Homo sapiens: one gene and its partner. The protein of the gene in region 1 interacts with the protein of each later gene in a biochemical or structural test. Each region holds a gene or a part of one and is shown on either strand. Other genes may lie near its edges.

The links.
Region 2: the proteins of KPNA4 (region 1) and CSE1L form a complex in vitro, tested with the Homo sapiens proteins (one study listed by BioGRID).

The regions. Positions count from the first base shown.
Region 1 is NC_000003.12:160,558,972-160,562,571, forward strand, and holds part of KPNA4 (importin subunit alpha-3), read right to left. Parts: intron 1-3,600. UniProt on the Homo sapiens protein: Functions in nuclear protein import as an adapter protein for nuclear receptor KPNB1. Binds specifically and directly to substrates containing either a simple or bipartite NLS motif.
Region 2 is NC_000020.11:49,091,249-49,095,080, forward strand, and holds part of CSE1L (exportin-2), read left to right. Parts: intron 1-797; coding exon 798-879; intron 880-2,891; coding exon 2,892-3,038; intron 3,039-3,483; coding exon 3,484-3,715; intron 3,716-3,832. UniProt on the Homo sapiens protein: Export receptor for importin-alpha. Mediates importin-alpha re-export from the nucleus to the cytoplasm after import substrates (cargos) have been released into the nucleoplasm.

The sequences.
Region 1 (3,600 bases):
AAAAATGAAGATTACATATAAGCCACTTCTGCTGCATACCAACTTCTACTTAAGGACGACTGTCTCAAGGAAAAAGTACTTGTGCAACTGAGTTGTGAACTGACCTAGCCACTTTTTTCATGGAACACTATTTTTACTTGAAAAAACGACTGACAGACAAATTATGGTTATTCAGACTTAATGGTTGGAAGATGTTTTCACAAAAATGAGCAAAGTGAGTCTATGGCTTCAACGATAACCATTTATAGCATTTATTGCTAATGATAAAATTTCAGCTTCCTCTGAACTTGTCCCAGAGGCATGGTAAAAAAAGAAAAAAAAATTGAGCTTCCCAGAGAAAGTTAGAATTTTAGAAAACTTGTATCCACTTCTGTGAACCTGACAGATTCTCAATACTTAAGATTTTTCTGAATTGTGTGGTTAACAATCATGAATTTTTTATTGAATAAAATATGTTAGCATTTGGAAGACGTGCATAACTCAGTGACATAATGTTTTCCAAATAATCCAATGCATGGTATTACAAAAAGCATCAGTAAAAGATGGGTAAATGTTACATCTGAAGTGCAAGACAGACCAATAGATTTTAATGTAACAGTGTAAGAAAAGTTCACTCATGTGGCTTCAGATTCTACATTGCAACTATCTTTAAGAAACTACCTCTTGCAGAATTACGGTGTAGTATCACTTAATCTCCATAATTATCCTGAAAAGCCTATGAAAACATAACATACTTTCCTTTTTCAACTGTCTGTCTGTGTGAAGGTGGACATTCTTCACACACTTCGACCAAAACAGTGTATCACAAAAGACTGAATGCAGAAACAGATGAGAATTCAGCTGTCTTAAGCCAAACATTAAGACCCGAAAAAAAGGTTCAACATGGCCATTCTTCTCATTATGTATTTTTGGTTTTGAAAAATGTCCTTATTTTATAGATATCAATATACAGTTCTCATATTAACCACAGAAAAAGGAAGAACTCCAACCCTGTCTTTTACCAAACCTAAATGAAAAGCACAGAAAACAAACTGTGTTTTCTAGTGTTTGAAAGTCTACAAGTGACCCACAATTTCCAAAAACCCTCTGAGAAAAAAAGAAAACATTTACTGAATACCTATTATACCCCGTGGACTATGCTCAGTGCTTTCACATAGAACCTTTTCATCAAATTTGAGACTGGCATTAAGGCTGAAAGAAGTCAAATGGAGGAAATATGGTAAAGTACAAAAAGAACAGACTCTGACACACCTGAATTAAAATCATTCCCTTAAATGTTATCTTATTAAATCAAAAGCACAAGAGTTTCTTCTTTAAAATTTCTTCTTTAAAATAAATTCAATATGTATAAGATTGAGAGAAATGTGAATACAGTTAAAAGCATATACAGTAGGTGCTCAGAAAGTTCCCTTCAGTCATATTCCTCTTTTCTGTTCCAAAACTAAATCAGCGAGTAAGTACCAAAATCAGAGATCAAGGTTAAATCTGATGACATGCTCTTGTTTCATTCATCATTATAGGCCTCAAATAGATGAATGCTACTCCAGAAAACATTTAAAAATATTTTAAGGACCCACAACCACTATCAGGTATTAGAAATCAATGTTTAAAAACTACCTTTGCATTTTTTTTTCTAAAGTAGCTTCATTCTTTGAAATCTAAATCACTCCTACAATTCTTCCCAATCTTGTACATTCATTTGACATACTTAGTGACTACGAAAAATAAGGGCATCTTGGTATCTCCAGGAAAACTATCAATGAAGCAATTCTCAAACTGGCTACCTTGTAAACCAGGAAAGTTGGCAAGAAGTACAGAAACAGTCATTTAATTCCTAACTATATTTCTATCAGATATTTCATATTGTCACATGCTTGGACTATTATGTGAAAAATTAGACAGTAGTTATTTTAAGTATAGTAAATATGTTCCAAGATTTGTGGTGAGAGAGATCAGTCTCTAAAAGTTAACAAGACTTAATACCTTAACAATGCTTTTCACTCTGTACACTTTAACAAATCACTGAGGCTCTTTCAAAACAACAAAACAGCTGATCAATTTATTAAACTCTTGCCAACCAAGCACCTTTTTTTAAAGTTCAAGCTGACTTCATATTTTATGTTTGTGTGGATAATCACAAGTTTCTAATTATGTAGCATTTTAATATTCTTTTATATTTAGGGTAAGTTGTTTTCTTAAAGTTGTGTTTTTAAAAGATCTAGTTATATTTTATGCTCTATTTGAACCTAGACACTCAGAACTTTCATAAAAAGTATGCAGGTTTATTAGGAAATCTACAAGAAAATTCCCCTCTACTTTAAAAAACATAAATTATATGAGCTTAATTTACTTTATCCTGACAAGTTTTTTATTTCAAGTTTGGTCACTACCCATTTCCTGTGTTGCACTGTATATACCCTCTTTTCTATGGTTACTATTCTCAAACTAAGACTGGGGATCTTCTACAACACTGTAAGAAGCAGCCACGCCATGGTGAATATCATCTGATAGTTCCTGATAATTATTTTAAATGGATACTGAACATATGCCTTCTTTGGTGCGTTTGTGTTTCAAGAAACTTAACATGACCACATTTTAGAGGAGTCAGAATGGTAGAGAGAGGTAGGAACAAATATCAGATTGAAATCTATGAATAACTTTCAACTCTAACACTCAGAAATTACAACTTTAAAAGGATCACTAATTTGGTGTGCCTAAACTGCCCTTCAATGAGCAGCTACATGTCTCTGTATTAAAACCTTTCCCTATTACTTGTTCAATGTAACAAGTTATACAAGCAGAGAGAAAAAACAGCCACTGAAAATAAGGGAGTAAGAGAATCAATTATACTGAATCTTGTTAAATCCCTTCCCTCCCCCAAAAAGAAAAGCTGAAGGTGATAAAACGCTCAGAGAATTGCCAGGCATCTTCCTAACATTACCTATTAATCTTCACAACACTCATGAAGCAGATGTCAAGTACCTCTAGTTTTACAGATGAAAGAACCATAAGACTAAGCGATTTTCCCCAAGGTCATACACAAAGTTAGAGATCAAATTAAACTAAACTCTAGGACTCTGTATTCTTCATCATTTCTAATCAAATAAACTGTTAGATCATAATATGCTACAATTACCTCTCCCTAAATGCTATACTCTGTACATGGGCTGTTCCAATAAGGTAGCCACTAACCACATGTGGCTATTAAGCACTTGAAATGCAGCTAGTCCAAGTGGAGGTATGCCATAACCGTAAAATACAAACTGGATTTTGAACGTATGAAAGGAATAATATGAAACGTCTCAATTATTTTACACAAATTAGATGTTGCATGGTATTTTGGATATACTGGATTAAGTTAAATTCACTGGTCCATACTTCTTTCTGAAGACTTCCCATGAAATAGATGTCATCATAAGATCCAAATCAAAAAGCAATTATTTTCTCAGAATTTGCTGTATTCTACAGACATTATGTAACACAATGTAGTAACCATATCTAAAGGGTGATTAAGTGTTTAGAGAGATACAGCATATATGTAAGTAGGCTGATAAGTGCTTAGAGAGATAGACCAGATATGTAAGTAACAAATACACAAAG
Region 2 (3,832 bases), on another chromosome or scaffold:
CCTGTCCCTACGAAAAGTACAACAAAATTAGCCAGGCATGGTGGCATGTGCCTGTAGTCGCAGCTGCTTGGGAGGCTGAAGTAGGAGCATCACCTAAGTCCCAGAGGTTGAGGCTGCAGTGAGCCAAGATTACACCCACTGCACTCCATCCTAGGTGACAGAGTGAGACCCTGTCTCAAAAAAAAAAAAGAAAATATTGTAAGGGCCTGGTGCAGTGGCTCTCATCTGTAATCCCAGCACTTTGGGAGGTGAAAGTGGGAGTATTCCTTGAGTCCAGGAGTTAACGACCAGCCTGGGCAACATGGTAAGACCCTGTCTCTACAAAACAGCCAAGCATGGTGGTGTGTGCCTGTAGCCCCAGCTACTCAGGAGGCTGAGGTGGGAGGATCACTTGACCCTGGGAAGTTAAGGCTGCGTGAGCTGTGATCACGCTCCTGCACCCAGCCTAGGTGATAGAGTGAAACCTTCTCACAAGAAAAAAGAAAATATTTTAAGATGTTTGTGTTCTCCAAACATTAAGTTAGTGTTAGTCATATTGTGTTCCAGAGGTTGGTTTATGGTTGGATACCAAAACATTTTTTCAGTAGAGAGAATATTATAAGGAAATATAAATCAAAGAGAGACAGCATGTAAAGGTCTATGACAGAAAGACAAGTTTTCTATTTACTAGAAGGCAGGTATTGATGCCACAGCCTTTGGATGTTAATGATTAAGCATAGGTTTATTTTGCAGACTTATCAGTTACCAGTTTAGTGCGTGAGTTCTCTATGCTGATATTCTGCATCTTCTTTCAACAGGTTTTTTAGTCTTTATTAATTTGTATTGCATAAAATATGGGGCACTAGCACTACAAGAAATATTTGATGGTATACAACCAAAGTAAGTTTGTTTTTATTATTTTTTAAAGGAAGAAAATGTTTTGACTTTTTTTTTAGTACAAATCAGTATCTCTGTCTTATAGATGATGATGTGGTTCTTGGTATGGAGATAGTGTCTATGGTTTTCAAAATATTCTTAGGTATTGGGAGTAAAGAAAAAGTAATCCTGGCCCAGCATGGTGGCTCACGCCCGTAATCCCACACTCTGAGAGGCTGAGGAGGGCGGATTTAGCTCAGGAGTTTGAGACCAGCCTGGGCAATATAGTGAGACTCCATCTCAAAAAAAGAAAAAACACCCTGGAATCATTGTTCTAATCCTCTAGATTAGAGGACCATCTACTCTACACACTGGCATTCTCCACAGCCAGTGTTCTATATTATGTTAAATGGTCAGTGTTGTCTCCAGGAGCCTGCCTTATTAAAACTAACAGCAGAAAACACCACATGTTCTCACTCATAGGTGGGAATTGAACAATGAGAACACTTGGACACAGGGCGGGGAACATCACACTCTGGGGCCTGTCGTGGGATGGGGGGCAGGGGAAGGGAGGGCAGAGGGAGGGATAGCATTAGCAGAAATACCTAATGTAAATGACGAGTTAATGGGTGCAGTAAACCAACTTGGCACATGTATACATATGTAACAAACCTGCACGTTGTGCACATGTACCCTAGAACTTAAAGTATAATTAAAAAAAAAAACCAGAATTTTCCTTCCCCCTTTTTTAAAAAATCGTGCTAATCCATATCGTTCCAATTTTAGTATATGTGCTGCTAATGCAAACACAGCAGAATTTTTCAAATGAGAAATACTTAGGACCAATAAATTAACTTTGTTTTTGACTTATCTGGTATATATGCAAAGAATGTATTTAGGTGGCATTTCCCATTAGTAGGGAATAAAACAATTATAACGATAAGATAAAGAACAACTCTTAGGGAAAATTTCTTCGGGGACAGTTAGATCCCTGTACCTCAGTTATGTCTCAAAAATTCTACATTGACTAAAAAATGAATTACTCTGGAAAGGAGACCAGAAAACATGGCTTCCGGCAGTAGGGGATTTTGAGGAAATCTCATGCACTGCTAGTGGGAGCCTGAATTAGCCTGATCTTTCTAGAGAGCAAAATGTATGCACTTTTTATCCAGAGCATTAGAATTGCCATACCCTTTGAGCCATATTTCCACTTCAAAGAATTGGTTCTATTAACGCATAAACTGAGGATTTTGCATCATTTAGAATTACGGAAAACTTCACTTCTAGCATGTTTGCAACAACATAGAATGATTGGCCGAATTATTTTAAATAGCCATTAGCATTTATGTACCTGCAGGTATGTAAGCAAAGACAGTTGGGAAGCTTATAACCCAAAAATGTTAAAACTAGTTGTTTCTGGGTGGTGGGATGATTCCTTTTTTCCCTCCTTGCTCCTCTCTCTTTTTTTTTTTTTTTTCTTTTTTTTTTTTGAGACTGGCCAGGTGTAATTTTTAAAGAAAAAAGCAGAGAGGGCCAGGAATGGTGGCTCACGCCTGTAATCCTAGCACTTTGGGAGGCTGAGGCAGGTGGATCACCTGAGGTCAGGAGTTCGAGATCAGCCTGGCCAACACAATGAAACCCCATCTCTACTAAAAATACAAAAATTTGCCGGGCGTGGTGGTGGGCACCTGTAATCCCACCTACTCAGGGGGCTGAGGCAGGCAAATTGCTTGAACCCAGGAGGTGGAGGTTGTAGTGAGCTGAGATCACACCGTTCCACTCCAGCCTGGGCAACAAGAGCGAAACTCCGTCTCAAAAAAAAAAAGAAAAGAAAAAGATTATGGCATTTGGCTACAGGGTAGAGGTGTGATGGGGTTTTTTTATGTTTTGACTTTCAGTCTCTTCAGATGATCAAAAACAGCAGTCTTGTTATTTAGTAATTTATCATATTCATAAGAAGTAACTAACATCTAAGCATTTTACTATTTCATTATAGTGATAATCTAATATTAAGTTGATTTATTTTGCTTTAATAGAATGTTTGGAATGGTTTTGGAAAAAATTATTATTCCTGAAATTCAGAAGGTATCTGGAAATGTAGAGAAAAAGATCTGTGCGGTTGGCATAACCAAATTACTAACAGAATGTCCCCCAATGATGGACACTGAGTATACCAAACTGTGGTAAGTACTTCATTTTAATATTTTTGTAAGTTACAGCTTCCTTCCCATATGACTGCAAAATTAACAAAGCTTATTCTCTTGGGGGCCAAGAGAATCTTGGTCTGATCTCAGCTTCTCCACAATCAGATCCAAGACATGATTTCTGGATCCTTCTGGGCTTAGAATGATCTTGTTTCCTGCTTCTTTTTCAGGGGGATTCATGGACCCCTTTAAGAGTCTGATCTAGGTGATCTCTAAGACAATTTTATGACAGAAGCCCAACTAAACTGACTTATCTTTAAGGGGAAGAACTGAATAAGCCAAGAAAAGAACCATCTTAATTTCAAAGGTCCCCTTTTATTCTTGAGACTATGAGTCTGTAATTTTGTGTCTCTGAGCAATTGCTGGTTTTAAGTCTTCCGAGTATTTTCTTGACCTTTTTATCTCTTGCTTTCTTCCAATCCAGGACTCCATTATTACAGTCTTTGATTGGTCTTTTTGAGTTACCCGAAGATGATACCATTCCTGATGAGGAACATTTTATTGACATAGAAGATACACCAGGATATCAGACTGCCTTCTCACAGTTGGCATTTGCTGGGAAAAAAGAGCATGATCCTGTAGGTCAAATGGTGAATAACCCCAAAATTCACCTGGCACAGTCACTTCACAAGTTGTCTACCGCCTGTCCAGGAAGGGTAAGTGTGTTGTCAAAGAACTCTGTGATAAATGGAGACTTTAATGGGAGGGCAAAAGGATAGTAGTAGTTCTGGTGTCTGTTTTCATTGGTGGGCGTAATAAAACTAAATCTCATT